2 separate regions of the Homo sapiens genome follow, and region 1 is linked to region 2. Evidence: fine-mapped expression QTL. Tissue or cell type: whole blood. Region 2 holds a variant in brackets; the other region holds the start of a gene. All regions are shown on one strand. Distances are between the middles of the regions.

The links. PIP is the estimated chance that this variant, and not a neighbour inherited with it, causes the effect.
Region 1: ZNF787 starts here. The variant in region 2 is fine-mapped to the expression of ZNF787 in whole blood (INTERVAL, PIP above 0.99).

The regions. Positions count from the first base shown.
Region 1 is chr19:56,116,715-56,124,815 of GRCh38, forward strand. It overlaps ZNF787 (zinc finger protein 787), which reads right to left and starts at 4,581. Exons shown (of 3, transcript NM_001002836.4): 1 at 4,458-4,581. It overlaps LOC124904772 (a long non-coding RNA gene), which reads left to right and starts at 4,896. Exons shown (of 2, transcript XR_007067348.1): 1 at 4,896-5,218; 2 at 6,806-7,831. RefSeq lists enhancers at 766-1,481, 1,221-1,390, 3,626-3,920, 4,348-5,063 and silencers at 3,668-3,717, 3,798-4,117, 4,408-4,487, 4,498-4,617, 4,708-5,077.
Region 2 is chr19:56,083,227-56,091,327 of GRCh38, forward strand. It overlaps ZNF787 (zinc finger protein 787), which reads right to left. Exons shown (of 3, transcript NM_001002836.4): 3 at 4,140-5,866. The coding sequence ends at 4,797. Among named protein-coding and RNA genes, the nearest start is that of LINC01864, 21 kb to the left of the region's middle. RefSeq lists enhancers at 1,785-2,286, 2,287-2,786, 3,122-3,721, 7,694-7,863, 7,993-8,101. The variant A/G (reference allele first, on the strand shown) is at 4,471.

The DNA.
Region 1 (8,101 bases), 33 kb after region 2:
TGTGGATTCTCCCCCGGGGCCTTTGCACAGTCCCTTCCTCCCACCTCACCTGCCCTCTCAGTATACATCTGCTTAGCCCATCTGCCACGGCTCAGCATCAACAGCACCTCCCCCAGGAAGCTTTCCCAGACTGCTCCCTTCCCTCAGCTCTATCCTCTCTTATCCAGCGACAAAAGATCACACTCATCAAGCACGGATTAAATCCCAGGTCCTGGGTGCAGGGTGCCCTAAGCACATAAGCTCTGATCCTGGGCCCCACAATCAGTGGGAGACAGTGCGAGGCCATGAGGCCAGCACAGGGACAAGAGGACAGCCGTTCTGGGCAGGGCAGGGTGGGATCTGGCCCCCCAGGAACCAGCCACATGACCTGGGCAAGGTGCTTGGGCTACCCGTCCCTCCTGATTAAATGAGATGTGTGTCAAGTGCTCACCCAAAAGCCGTGGAGATGCCCAGTAAACACAGCCTATCACTGTGGTCCTTGTTGTATAGACAAGGAAACTGAGGCTTCCACAAGCAGAGTGGCTAGTACAGTATCACAGAGCCACAGCGAGGCTTTCAAAAGCGGAGTGGCTAGTACAATCTCACAGAGCCACAGCGAGGCTTCCACAAGCAGAGTGGCTAGTACAACCTCACAGAGCCACAGCGAGGCTTCCACAAGCGGAGTGGCTAGTACAACCTCACAGAGCCACAGCGAGGCTTCCACAAGCGGAGTGGCTAGTACAATCTCACACAGCCACAGCGAGGCTTCCACAAGCGGAGTGGCTAGTACAATCTCACACAGCCACAGCGAGGCTTCCACTAGCGGAGTGGCTGGAGCAATGTCACAGAGCCACAACGTAGGAGGCTGGAGCCACACCTGAGTCGGCCAGCTGCCAAAGACAGCTTGCTTCCTTCTAACTCTTGGACAACGGCATTTGTCCCCTTTAACGTCCACCATTGAGGATGGTCCTGTGTCCCGCAGGGGGATCTGTGTCTTACTCCGTGTCTTATTCACCTCTGCGACACCTACTATAGGTCCCCATCAGTCCCACAGTGCATCCAGCAGACTGTGCACTTGAGGGCGGGGCTATTTCCAGCAAAGACCCTGCACACAGCAGCCTCAGGAATCCATGGCTCTGACTGGCTGGACCCTGGGCTGAGGCAAGGACCACTTCTGATGCATCTCTGGGTCCCAACACTATCCACTGCAAGGCCTCGAAACAGGGGGGCCAGATGGGACCCCCATTTAGCACAAGAGAGACGTCCACACTCTGTGAGCCCAAAGGGAGAAGGCTCAGGCCACGGCAGAGACGGAACCAGGAAAACGTCACGAAAAACAGCCTCAAGTTGCCAGGTCCCTTGCAGGAACAGACAGGCCTGGGGCCGCCCCACCTGGGCTCAGAGCTTGGGCTGGTTTCTCTGCAGCTGTAAGGTGACAGCTCTGGGCTCCTGGGACAGGGCCACTGACACTGGAGGTGTGACTGCTCGAACTCCACACCTGCCTTGCTCTCCCTGATGCTGGGTGAGTGAGGCCTCCTTGGGGGTTGCATGGATCTCAGCACTCAACTTCCGAGCCACTTGTGCTTCTCCCACTATGCTGGGGTTCCCCTGAACCAGCCAGCAGCCCTGCGTGTAGGAGTCCTCGTGGACAGTACACCCCACTAGGCAGGGAGTCCAGCGTCTCCAAGCCAATGACTAACACCTAGAGGACTTCGGAACAGCCTTTGTCCCCCTAGACCCCAACCTGGGGGCGGAAGGGGGCGGTTGTGATGGTCAAGGGTCTGGGCTCTGGAATCGCAGTAGACACAGGTTCTGAAGCTGCTGGGGGCCTTGGGCTAACAAGTGCCATCCAGAGCCTCCATCCCATACCCCTAAAATGGAGGTGACCACCTCCATCCCAGAGCCTTGAGAATTTAGGACAGTGAGGACCAGGCACTGGGCCAGGTTCCTGCAAAGTGTGCACCAGCAAGTGTTGTCGAATCTGCAGTTTCTCACACCACAGAGGCCCCAGCACCTGGCACAGTCCTCACTAGGCTGGAGGCCTCAGGATGCACCAGAGGACACACGAACGAGGTTTGGAAAGGCCTGTGAAACATGTCTGAGGATGGGTGTCCTGAGAGCTGTGTATGCCTAGTAACAAAAGACCTCCCAGGGCAGCCAGGCAGTTGCTGGTGGCCTTGAGCTGTGACCCCTGCCATTCCCTGCCCAGAGCCCACTGTCATCCTCCCTTAAGTACCAGGTTCCTGGTAGCCAATCCTTCCTCTCTATCTTTCAAGACACAATACCTCCCCTGCACCACACACCCCTCCCTCAAGGTCAGAGCTCCCGGGAGCACTCTGGCAAATCTCCCCACCCCTCTGCCCAGTGTGAATGGGTCTCAGCTGCTCTGGGACAGGGACTGTATGATTCCTGCCAGGCTGCCCAGCACGGAGCACCACTCTACCTTGTGCTTGCACAGAAGGGCCTTGAGATCCCTCTCTTCACCCAGGCTGGGCCAGGCACCTCATCTGGGCCCTCACAGGACAGTGCTGTGCCAAGACCATGTGTGACCTCATGCCCAGCACAGGGCCTGGCCTGTGCAGCCGCCTGGATGGATTACATTTACTCAGGGAATTGTGAACTTGCTCTCGTTTTTAGACAACTGAAGGGAAATTGAACCTGGGAAAAGGGAAGTGACATGTCCAAGGTCACAGAAGTGGAAGAGACAGTGCCAAGGCCAAGGCCCAGGAAAGGGCCTGGCTCCAGAGCCCTTTCCATTTACTTTACACCCATCTGTTGAGGTCTGCTCTGGCTCTAAAATGAAAGCATTAAGAGCCTTCCCGCTGAGGTCAATACTATTATTACCACTCCCACTCTGTCCTGGTGGAAAGTAAGGCACTGAAGTTACTCGTCTAAGGCCACGAAGGTGAGTGGTGGGGCTGGGACTTGAACCCAGGCCTGCCCAGTCCCAGAGCTCTTGGGGAATACAACCCAGTGCCTGCACACACTCTGGCAGTGCACCAGGGAGGGGCCAGGCCGGGTGCCCGGATGGATGGATAAGACATGAGATAAGCAAGCAGGAATCTGATCTGGATGTTCTCTGAGGCCGTGCGTGGCCGGAGGACCACAGGGACTGCGCAGAGGCAGGCAGGTGAATGTCAGCAGCGTTTAGCCAAAGAGGCTTACGGTCTTCAGAGGAGCTAAGCCAGGATCAACGCAACTGTGCTTCCCGGCGCTGGGGTCAATCGGATCCCCAGATGGGTTCTAAGCACTGCGCAACATGGGACCTGGGAGCAGGACACCGCAAAGAGCAGACCAAGCCATTCCTTCCCTAAAGCCCTGACCATCCCCCGGACTGGGCTGGGTCAAAATGCCTTCCCTGGCTCCCACAGCCCCCAGACCTCTCCATCAGGGGTCTGGTCACCTTGGATGGCGACTCTGTCGCCCGGGTCTCAGTCTCTGCCTTCCACCCAGACTCCAAGCCCTTGTTCATCTCCCTGCTCCCTGTCTCTAGTGCCCGGCACAGGGCCTGGCACTGGAAAAACTTCTGCCTCCACTCACTCCTGCCTTCTGTGTCTGTGGGTCACTTTTCTGTGCGACTCTGCAGGTCCCAGAGCACTCATCCACATGAATTGGGGTCAGCTCCCTGGACTGGGGGTCGGGGTGGGGTGTCAGGAGGGCGGGGCTCCACTCTGATCCACTCGGCACAGGGGAGGGAGGCCTCAGGAGTCGCCACCCGATCCAGTCCCCGCCTTCGCCCTGCCCCGTGGGCCACGCGGTGGCTGACCTTGGCCCAGTCACTTCCCCCGCTGGGGACGCGCTTCCTCCCCGCCTGCCGAGCAAGGACGAATGAATGGGCCTCCTGCCGGCCAGAATCCCCGTAATTACCCGCCTGATCAAAGGCCACGCGCAGCCCGCCCGGGGCAGCAACGGGACCCGGGCTGACTCGAAAAGGGGAAGGAAGGGCTGGGGGGGCCGAGGGCTGAGACCGTGCCCTCGGGGCCGCGGTATCCGGCCAGGCCAGCCCAACCGCGCGGCCCCTTCCCCCACCTGGGCCTCAACTTCCCCCCGAAGTCGCCACCACTTCCGGCCACGACCGGCGGAGTTGGAACTTCGGGGGGACGGACAGCGGCCCCACCCCCGACGGCCCGCAGCAGAGGGACCCCCACCGAGGCCCCCGCTCCTGCCCCCGCCACGCGCACGCGCGCGCCCTGGACCCGGACCCGCGCACGCGCACCCCCCCTCCAGCCCCGCTCGCCGCCCGCGGGCCGCCCGGGCGCGCGTCCCCTCCCACAGCTCTTCGGCGCGCACGCGCACTCCCCCCGCCCGCGTCACCCCGGCCGCGCGCCCACTCACGCCCCCCCAGCAGCGCGCACGCGCGCCCGCCGCCCAGTCGCGCTCGCCCTCCAGTCTCCCCACCCACCCCCAGCCCAAGCCCAGCTTCCCGAAGCGCGCGCCCACCTGGCCCCCAGCGCACGGCCCCCGCCCCCACCCCTCACCTCCTTGGTCCCGGGGCCGCCGCGCCGCACTCCTCCTCCTCTCTCCTGCCTCGCGGATGGTGGCAGCGGCGGCAGCGGCGACTCAGACCCTGGGGTCAGGGGGACGGGCGCCCAGGCCGGAAGTGACCTTCCCGGCCGCTTCCGCCCGCGCCGCTCCCCCCCTTCTCCCTACTCCCTGCCCCCCGGGCCGCCACCCTGTCCTCGCCGCTCTAGGAAGGCGAGCCCGCTATCCCGGCCACCGCCCCCAGCTCTGTGGTGCCCGGCGGGCGCCTGAGGGAGCCACTTCCGGAAGTGTCTAGGACGCAGGTCCTCCGTCCATGCTCTATGGCGCCCCGCGCCGAGGGGCTTCGGCCCCGCCCCCTTCCCGGACAGGAGGTGCGGGCTGGGCCCGTTAGGCGGAGACTTCCGGGTGTCTAGGGCGGTGCCCCCCCGACAACCCGGGCTCCTCGCGCCTGCGCGGCCGGGTCCCCGGGCCCGCCGTGAGGAGAGTGAAGTGGTGGAGAGGGACGCTCGTGCCACCCCGGGTCCTCCTACCGTCTCTATCATGGTAACCCCTTCTCTGCCGCTGCACCTCCCAGTGGCCCGAGTCCAGGTGCCTTAGTTACTGGACAGAGACCCCGGGTTCCTTAGTTACTGGACAGAGAGTGCTGCGCTTCAGGTGCCATGGCCTCAGTTTCCTCCTTTCTGAAGTGATGAAAATACATTGTGCGCCTCCAAGTGCTTCACACGCACTAGGTCCTAGTCCTAACTAGGGCCTCATGGTAGGTCCTATCCCTATGTTGCAGGTGAGGAGTCAAATCACCTACCAAAAGTCACACACCCGGAATGCCAGAGCCTCGGCCCGAACCCATGGAGTTTGGCTCTAAATTCGTGTATTTAACCCTTGACTGTACACACTGCCTCGTGTCATAGCCCTGAGAATCCACTACTTCCCCCGCGTTAGGTAGGCACCTAGTAAGGACGCACTGGGTGTTAGCTGTTACTGTTGGTATTCTTGCAAAAAACACATATTTTAAAATAATTGTCCAAACCATAGTGTCCTTGTAGGCTGGTCCTTCTGGTCCTTCCTCTGTTCTGTACTTGGCTGACTCTCACCTAAGTGGCAGATGACTTATCGCTTATAATTGTTATCATCCTCACTGGTAGTCAGAAAAGATAAGAAGCTATAATTCACTGGTGGAATAACACCTTTCTCAGCCTCAATTTCTCATCTGTGGAATGGGAAAAAATAAGATAACCTGCAAGGTAATATGTGTAAGAGCTGCTTAGTTCAATACCTGGCCCATAGTAAGTTCACAAAAATGATGGTGGTTATTATTACCTATTAGCAGTGTTACATATAAGTCTATTGTTGTGGCCACTGTATACCCTCAAAGCTCAGTGAGCATCAATCATAAGATGTATATTATTGATTTAATAACATCTTTCCATGGGGTGGGGTGAACAGTGCTGTGTTAACTGTGTGTGTCAATAGGAGGATATCTGTGTCCCTCCTTCAGAAATATCACAAAGGTAAATTTTTAAATATATCTTAGAACAGAAGGAAGTGTGGCCGGGTGCAGTGGCTGACACCTGTAAATCTCAACACTTTGGGAGGCAGAGGCAGACGTCAGGAGGTCAGGAATTCGAGACTACCCTGGCCAACATAGTGAAACCCCATATCTATTAAAAATACAAAAATTAGCTGGGCGTGGTGGCGGACACCTGTAATCCCAGCTACTCGGGAGGCTGAGGCAGGAGAATGGCTTGAACCTGGGAGGCAGAGGTTGCAGTGAGCTGAGATCGCACCACTGCACTCTTGCCTGGGCGATGGAATGGGACTCCGTCTCAAAAAAAAAAAAAAAAAAAAGAGAGTGAAGTGCTATCATAACAGCAATAGAAACAAATTATTAGGGTACAAACTCTACACGAGGAAACCTGTTTATAAGAAAAGTCATGTGCTTGTGCTCCTCTGAATCAGATCATTCAGTGGGTGTCCTGCAGTGACCTGGTTGTTGGGAGGGACAGCCTCCTCCCTCTCCAGCCCATTCCCCTTCTTCGCTGGTCAAATTGACAACGGCAAGATCGAGAACAGCTCATTGGCACACCAGATGGAAGCCAACACTGAGGATGGAGGAGAAACAAGACACAGGGAGCCAGCTAGACACTGGATGGCTTCGTGAAAGAGGCTCCGTGCCAGCTGAGATTTTATGTGAGAGAAATCACTTTCTAACTCACTGAAACCATTGGTAATTCTGAGTCTCTCCCTTAAGGCAACCCAACCAATACCAGGATGTTTCCCAAACATGGGATGGGTTGCAGCCGACATGGCTTAATTGACAATTAACATCTGTTCTTCCCTTCCGCAGTACAAAATCACTCTTGGGATGCTGCTTCCCATCGATGGATTCTGTTTTCCACTCCTCTTGGCATCTAAGTGTGGCCTTGTGATTGGTTCTCACCAATGGGATGGGATGGAAGCGATACAGGCCTCTTCCGAGCCAATGCTCTTAAGAAACATGTATGTTGGCCAGGCACGGTGGCTCACGCCTATAATCACAGCACTTTGGGAGGCCGAGACGGGAGGATCAGCTGAGTCCAGGAGTTCGAGACCAGCCTGGCCAACATGGCGAAACTCCATCTCTACTAAAAGTACAAAAATTAGCCAGGCGTGGTGGGCGCTTATAATCCCAGCTACTCCGGAGGCTGAGGCAGGAGAATTGCTTGAACCTAGGAGGCAAAGGTTGCAGTGAGCCGAGATCCCACCACTGCACTTCAGTATGGGCAAAAGAGTGAGACTCCATCTCAAAAAAAAAAAAGAAACATCTGCCTGCTTCCTGCTCTTTCAAGGCCCTAAAGAAAGAGGGGAGCCCCAAGAAACCTGGGTCCCTGAATGACCACCTTGTGGAAATACATCCTGTCACCTAACATCTATCCTAGATTGCTACATGATCAAGAAATACACATCTAACTTGTACACCCAATGCTCATAGCAGCATTATTCACAATAGCCAAGAGGTGGAAGCAACCCAGTGTCCATTGACAGATGAGCGAATAAACAAAATGTGGCACATAAATGCAATGGAATAGACCAGACGCGGTGGCTCACATCTGTAATCCCAGCACTTTGGGAGGCCAAGGCGGGCGAATCACCTGAGGTCAAGAGTTTGAAACCAGCCTGGCCAACATAGTGAAACCCTGTCTCTACTAAAAATACAAAAAATTAGCCAGGCGTGGTGGCGGGCGCCTGTAGTCCCAGCTACTTGGGAGGCTGAGGCAGGAGAATCACTTGAACCCAGAGGCGCAGGCTGCATTGAGCCAAGATCATGCCACTGCACTGCAGCCTGGTAAACAGAGCCAGACTCCGTCTCAAAAAATAAAAATAAATAAATAAATACAATGGAATATTTTTTAGCCTTAAAAAGAGAGAAAATTCTGACACAGGCTACAACATGGATGAACCTTGAGGACATTATGCTAAGAGAAGCAAGCCAGTCACACAAGAACACATACTTTATGATTCCACTTATATGAGGGACCTAGAGAAGTCAAATTCATAGAGACAGGAAGTAGAATGGGGGGTGCCAGGGGCTGGGGGGAGGGGAATGGGGTGTTAGTGTTTATTGGAGACAGAGTTTCGGTTTTGCAAGATGAAAAGAGTTCTG
Region 2 (8,101 bases):
CCTCCCAAAGTGCTGGGATTACAGGCATGAGCCACCGCACCCAGCCTGATAAATTTACGTTTTAAACCCACTTGTAGATTCACTGAGTATTTCAAGGGATAATGCAGGAAGAAGAATGAGGAATTTGGGAGTTGAGATTTGGTAAGTAATCTCTTCCTCAAAGTATCCATTACTTTTTTTAAAAAAATCTTATTTGTGACCAAACATCAATTGCTGATCCAAATCCCCCTGCCAGAGTCCCCACCAGCCTGAATGAGGCTGTCCGTCCACAGTCTACTTGCTGTCATGGCTAGTGGCCACCCCACTTCACAAGCATCCCATAAGGTACAGATAGACTGATCTAAGTGTTGGCATTAGATTCTGACTATTAAGCTCTGCTACTTATCAGCTGTGAGAGCCTGGAGGACTATTTAACCTCCCCAAAGCCTCTGTTCCCTTATCTGTAAAATAGGAACAATACCCTCTTCGAACTGATCGGGAGGCGTTAAAAGGGAACGCGTATGGATTAAACTGAGCTCCATCATCCCAGACTCAGCTGTGGGGGTGGGGGTGGGGGGTGGGGTGGGGGGGGGGGGGGAATCTCTGTCCATGGTGCTGAAAGACCGGCGCCAGAAAATAGGGAATTTCTGGATAGACTTGTCCATCAAGGCAGGAGAGGAGGCAAAATCAATGGTGCCAGAGGCAACTCCGTCCCCACCCACAGCCTCTTTGAGTGGTAGATATGAGGGGAAGGAGGGTGGATGTATACCACAGACACACACATACCCACATGCGCACAGACATACATATGCACAAAGATACAGATGCACCATCCACACAGACATGCATTCATACATGCAGAGACACACACAATTCACATGCATGCACTTCTCTAAGGATGGCCTGGAGTACACCAGCCCAAGATGCTCTATAAATGGAAGGTTTTCTGACAGAACAAGTTCAGAAAATGCTGCATGTTTTCACCTACCCCTGCCCTGGCCCCCAGCCCCACCCGGGTATACAGAATCATAGTGGAAAGTTCTGAGCCGGGTGGGTGTGGGGGGCTAGTTTTATAATTCATCCAGTCGACTAAATCTTGGCTCAGCACCTTCCACCTGCCAAGTACTGTTCTGTGTATGAGAAAATTTCAATCCGGCAGGGTGCAGTGGCTCACACCTGTAATCCCTGCACTTTGGGAGGCCAAGGTGGGTGGACTACTTGAGGTCAGGAGTTCAAGATGAGCCTGACCAATATGGTGAAACCCCATCTCTACTAAAAATACAAAAGTGAGCCGGGTGTGGTGCTGGGTGCCTGTATTCCCAGCTACTTGGGAGGCTGAGACAGAATTGCTTGAACCCAGGAGGCAGAGGTTGCAGTGAGTCCAGATTGCACCACTGCACTCCAGCCTGGGTGACACAGCGAAACTCCGTCTCAAAAAAAAAAAAAAAGAAAACTTGAATCCAGCATTTTCCCAGGTTATTTGAATACAAGATCCTGTTTTCTCCAAACATCTTAACAATATTCCCTGGAACCTACACTCTCCAGGCTACCCTTAGGGAAACGGGGCTGTATGGAATAAAATCATTTCCAGATCAACACTGCCTTCAGGCTGGGGAGTAAGCTGGGTGGAGGGTCCCTTTCCACTCACCTGTCTGGCCCTCACTCCCCCTGGGATTGCCTGTCACACCTGCCCCCTGCCCAGGACTCCTCCACCTCCTGCCTCCTGAGAGCCTCTTTTTGTCCCTTCAGCCCTTAGCTGTGTGTATCCCCTCCCAGCCCCCATGACAGCAGAGATTTGTGCCTGTTGAGGTCACTGCTGTGCCCCCATGCTTAGCAGAGTCCCTCACAGGAAAGAAGTGCCCGATAAACACCTAAGATTAAGTGGATTATCAACTCAGCAGGGGGCCGGGGGTGGGGGGCATGGGTGTCAGGACTTTAGATCCAGATTAAGGTTCTACCACTTTACAAACCAGTAGCCTGGGCAGGCTGCTTCCTCTCCTCGTACCAGCTTCAGCAGCAGCAGCCGAGGAATGATGGCAACCACACAGGGCCTTTGTGAGGACTGGACTCCGTAAGGGGCGTGAACGAGTCTGGGCGTGCCCTCCACCAAAGTGAGCATGAGAGGAATGGGGGCCGAAGGAACTTCTGCGGTCACTGCCAGGGTGGGTTTGTGAGCATGGAGCGGCCGCCTAGCCTCACCTTGCCGTGGGTGAGCAGCTCCAATGCAGGTGAACTACAGGGCCGACGGCAAGTGCCACAAGAACCCATGTTCCTTTCTTTACCTGGGACCCACGCCGTGCCTACTGGGCACGGAGCTGCTGCCCAAAACACATTTGTAGAATGAGTGAGTGAGGGGTGGGCAATGACTACCTGAGTGCATGAATCAGTAACGGACAGCGTGTGACACCAAAGCACAGGTCAGGTGTTGGGTCCGGTGCAGGCTGATGTCAAGGTGGTCATGTGAGCTCGCTCAGTTCTGTATTACAAAGTGGGATGAGTAGTGCAGAGCTGGGATTTGAGCCTGGCTCCTCGCCCCTGCATCTTTGCTCATGCCTGGGAGGGCAGCTCCAGTGAGTTAACACATGGCTTGGGGATTCCCCCCTCCACACACAGTCATACAAGGCAGGCAGGCAAGCTCTCCTTTCCACAGGGCAGGAAGCCAAGGGTCAGAGAGGTTAGTCCACTTGCCCAGGGTCACACAGCCTTAAGGGGCAGGGTGGAAACTTGCCCTGAATCTTTCTTGCTATAGGTGTCAGCTCCTGCCACCATATACTGGAGCAGGTAGAAGAGGCTGACCCGAGACTCAGTGTGCCCGACTTATGGGGCACCGAGCTGCCAATTCTACCAGACAGGGCACCTCCCATCCTCCCAGGCCTCCAGAAGTGCCCAAGGCCAGAGCTCCACAGAAGGACCCTAGGAGAAGTGAGCAATGCTTCCTCAGTCTTTGCTAACCCAGCCCACTCTGAACTGCCAAGGTTCACCCCCTCCTTTCGAGTGACCTGAAATTTCAAAAACTGACATGCAATACCAATTATCTAAGCAAGGCTCTGGCCACTTGAGAACACGCTTTTTTGATCCACAATCACTCCCTAGTCCTCTAACAAATCCTCCAGGATCTGTAGACCATCAGTGGCCCTGGTTTCTAAACCCCCTGCCTCCAGATGAGGCCCCAGGACCCTCCTCAAGCACATCAGGGTGTGAAAGGGCAGATTAAGGGCTCTAACTGGAAATCCGAATTTCTCCTTCAAGTCCCCCTCTACTATGAAACCCCCAAGTCAAAGACGCCTGCAGCTTGCCGCCTCCAATCGCTCCTGAGTAATCGCAGCCTTCAGCCAGGTTGAAAATACCCCTTTGGGACCCTCACTGCGGCCTCCCAAGGCCCCAGGAACATGGGTCCTCAGGACCTGGGCTGTGGGTCCAGGAAACCAGTCGCCATGGTCGAGCCCCCTTCTGATCATGAACAACAGCGCTCACCTGGCAGGGCGGCTGCAGCGGCTCTACCGGACCAAGCCCCTCGGGCACGCGCACTGCCTGAAATGCCCTAAGCGCTCGGCTGGACTGTGGCATACCCGCCCTCTCCCCCAGCCCCTGGCTGGCTCGTCTGCCTGGCCCCTGCAGCAGAGACAGCTGAGCGCACCATCCTCCTCCCGTAGGGGGCGGGGGGTCCTGTCCCCGGAGCGGCAGCCGCCGGGACCTCATCTCCCAGCCTCCTTCGCAGGGAGCCGCAACCACGGGACCAGCCCCGTGAACGACCCAGGTAGGGGGACGTGCGCCCTTTGCAGTCAGAGTCTCCCCCAGAAGCTGGAGGCAGGAGGAGGGTGCTTTTGGGGTTAGGGGCGGGGGCCACACGATAGGAGTGGAGGAAGCCAGCCGCCCCTGTGAGAGGGTGGTAGAAGCCGTGGGGGCTCCTTCCCCTGCAGCGGGCAGGCCTGGCCCTGACCAGTCCGCCCTGCCCCATCTACAAGCAGCTCCCAGGCCCTGTGAGTGCCCGCACCATAGTGAGGATATCCGCGGACAGGCCCCCCTGCCTAGAGCCCTCCGCGGGCGACCCAACGGGCCACTCCCGGGGCGCGGCTGACGCTCTGCTGATGCCCCGGCGAGAGCCTCCGTTTACCCCTCTTGCCCTTCTCCCTCCCGGACTCAAGAACCACGCAGAGGGGGACATTTGGATAGTGCCGTTTATTGTTCCAGCACCCCTTCCTCCACCACGCCCAGGCCTGGGACAAACGGGCACCCGCCTCCTGCGGCGCTGCCTCTGCTACCCGGAATCCAGGAGGGGAAGGAACGACTCGAGCTCTAAGGATGGGACCCGGAAGGCAGAAAAAAATAATGGATTGGGGCGGGCGGGGAGTCAAAAGGTGGGCTGATTAAAAGAAAATTCTAAAAGAGAAAAGGGCCCCTGGTTCTCTTCCCTCTCTGGGATCCTCTAAAGGGCCTGGTTTCTCCATTCCTCGCAGCACCCCCCACCCCCGCCCCGGACAACTGAGGAAG[A/G]GCAGGGAAAATGGCCTTCCGCTTGGGGCCTGGTCGCCACTCGGCCTCTGCAGTTCTCTCCATTGTCTCTCCGGCTCGCAGGCCGATAACTTAGGAAGGGCGGGCCAGGCTGAGGGGGCAGAGTCTCGAGGCGGAGAAGTGAACGGGCCCTAATACGCCCCAGTGCCCCCCCACGGACGGCGCAGGGACAGAGGAGGGCGGGGAGCCGGGGATGCCGCGGGGTCCATCGCACCCCGTCCGCTTCTCCCTGGGTCTCTTGGTCTTGCACGTCGTCGCTCCCGCCAAGCCCGAGGGGCCCTGCCCGCCCCCCCCCCCGGGCCCCTCCCCTACCGGCCCTCCCCACCGCGGCACTCGGGGCACCGCCCGCCCGCGGCCTCGTCGTCGTCGTCCTCCTCCTCCCCGCCCGCGCGGTAGTAGCTCTGTCCGCAGCTGCTGCAGACCGAGGGCGCGCCCACCGCGTGGATCTTCTTGTGTCTCCGGAGCGCGGCGCCCTGCACGAAGCCCTCCCCGCACTCCACGCAGATGTGGGCCGGCTCCTCGCCCCCCGCCGCCCCGAGCCCGTCCCCGTGCTGGGCCCGCTGGTGCGCCAGGAGCCCGGCCCCGTGCCCGAAGCCCTTCCCGCACTCCAGACACACGTACGGCTTGGGGGCCGGGGCGCGCCGCGACCGGGGCCCCGCGGCCTTTGCCCCCGCGCCCGCCATGGCTGCCGCGGCCGCGGCCCCCTCGCCCGGCGCGCCCACCACGATGATGCCCTCGCCATCGCCCACGGGGATGGCGATCTCGCCGTCCGCCGCCACCGCCTCTTCGGGCCCCTTGGCCCGCCGGACGCTAGCCGCCAGCACCTTGGCCGCCACGCCAGGCCCCGACAGCTCCGGGTGCAGCCGCAGGTGACGCGCGAGGCTCTTGGGCTGGCTGAAGCCGCGGCCGCAGCGCGGGCACACGAAGGGCTTGAGGCCGCTGTGCGAGCGCCGGTGCTTGGCCAGGCTCTTGCTCTGAGTGAAGCTGCGGCCGCAGTCGGGGCAGGTGTAGGGCTTCTCGCCCGTGTGGATGCGCTGGTGCTGCATGAGGTTGGAGCTCCAGCTGAAGCGCTTGCCGCACTCCAAGCAGGCGTAGGGCTTCTCGCCCGTGTGGATGCGCCGGTGCTGCACCAGGTGCGAGCTCTGCGAGAAGGTCTTGCCGCAGTCGGCGCAGGCGTTGGGCCGCTCGCCGGTGTGCGTGCGCTGGTGCCGCGTCAGCTTGGACCAGTGGCTAAAGCTCTTGCCACACTCGTTGCAGATGTAGGGGGCGGGCGGCCGCGGCCGGGGAGGCGGGCCGGCTGGGGGCGCAGACTGGGGCGGGGACAGCTTGGTGGGAGGCCAGCTGGGGACGTCGTCATCATCCATGATGAGGATGTCCACTGGAAAGCAAGAGGGTAGGGGGAGGTGAGTCAAGAGAGGCAAGGGCTCCACGCCTGCCTTGGCTGCTACGCTGGCCTCGGGTGCCTCGCTCCCCCTGGCGCAGGACCTGCCCTGGTGTCCTCAGAGTGTGCATCACTCCCTGCATTTTACTAAGTATTTATTACCCCTCTCCCCAGCTAAGACCTCAGCTCTGTGTGAGTTAAGACCCTCAGTTTACCCCCAACCTCTAGAACAATGCCCCAGACACAGAAGGCCTGGTCTGTAAACAACCAGGCAACATAAGAGGCATGGGCGAGGGGCGGGATCCACGGAAGGCTCCCAGAAAAGGACCCCGAAACCCAAAACACCAGCCTGGACGCCGGGGGCAGAGGATGAGGAAGGCTCACGGGCAAAGGTTCCACTAGGCAGAGGGGCCGCAGGGCTTGAATGCAGCCCTGGACACCTGGTCCTGAGCCAGGGAGTGGGTTTGGCACCCTGAAGACGTGCCCGCCAGGGAGCGATGGTGTCACATTCGGGCTCCAGGAAGACAATCCTGGCTGCAGACAGGTAATGGGATTGGAGATGAGCATGAAAGCCCCACCTCCGAACCTGGGAGTAAAACCTGGCTCAACGCCACCTCCATTACAGAGGCTATGGTCAGCCCCTGGTGTGGGGGCTCCTGTCTGCTCAGTGAGGACAATTCGGGCACACAGGGCTTTGCCTGCACATCTTTACACTGAGGACGCCCTTCCAGCAGTCAACGAGGCCTTTCACACTTCTGCACCAGGCCTGCCCCTGGGGGCTCTCCCGGGAGGGATGGGCTTGCCTCCTCCCCAGCTCATTCACTCCTGAGAAGGGTCCGTGTGCAGCTTCTACATTTGCTCTCCCTTGGGGCCTGGTCCAGAGCAACAGAATCAGGTGGGAGGGCCTCAGCAAGTGCATCTCTGACCCCCGTGGACACCCCAGGTGCACCCCACAGGGTTTTTTCAAAGCCATGAATCACAATTACAACGTTCTCACTCCTGACCTTACTAGACTGTAAGCTCCTAAGTCTCTATCCCAACACCTGGCACGGTGGTGCCCAGCACACAGAGCCCAAACACCCTCCCAGATGCCACGCTGGCAAACACGCAAGGAAGGGCCATGACGCCCCCCTGCGCTACACACTTCAGCGTCAGGTCCTCATAAGCTGGGAGCACAAAACTGAGCCTTTACAAGGGAGAAACTGAGGCACTAGGGAGTCGAGTCACAGCCCACAGCTACACGACTACAAAGTGGCAATGCCCAGAAGCGCATTAGTAGACTGGGTCCAAGAAACAGCCATCTACCACTAACTGCGGCCGCCCACCGCTAAATCCCCCACCCACAGGCAGCACACCCTACACGCTAAGGGAGTGCTCCACAAAGTGGGATCCTGCGACCAGTAGCATCGGCGCCACAGAGAACATATTAAAAACATTTATGCACTGCCCGGAGCGGTGGCTCACGCCTGTAATCCCAGCACTTTAGGAGGCCGAGGTGGGCAGATCACTTGAGGTCAGGAGTTCAAGACTATCCTGGCCAACATGGCAAAACCCCATCTCTACTAAAAACACAAAAATTAGCCGGGCGTGGTGGCGCATGCCTGTAGTCCCAGCTACTTGGAAGGCTGAGGCAGGAGAATGACTTGAACCCGGGAGGCAGAGGTTGCAGTGAGCTGAGATCACACCACTGCATTCCAGCCTGGGCGACAGAGCAAGACTCCATCTCAAAACAAAACAAAAACGCTTATGCTCAGGCCTCCCTCCAGACGCACTGTATGAGAAAGTGCCGGGCCGGGCCTGTGCTTCAGCAAGCCCCCCAGGTGATTCTGATGCCAGCTCCAGTGTGAGAATCACTATTCCAAGGCAGAGAGTATTCGAATATGGCTCTTGAACCTGCGGCAGAAGAAAACACTCCAGGTGAAGTCAGGAAGGGGGGAGCCTTCTGGAGAGATGGCATGGAGCCCACTGCGTTGTCAACATAAATCAAAAAATGTTGTAAGTTATAAGCACATTACTTAAAGATGTAGAGAGAATTAAAAACAAACATCAGAAGCTATTTGCCCCGGGGCAGTGTGACTGAAGGGGACAGAAAGGGACGGGCAGGAAAGAGATTTGTTGTCACCGTAAACCGAGCCATACTATCTGAACCTTACAAGTGCTTCTACGCCTTTAATTAAAATAACTGCTTTGTTTTCGAAGCTGTGAAGAAAGAAAGTGTAGCAATGCTCCCTG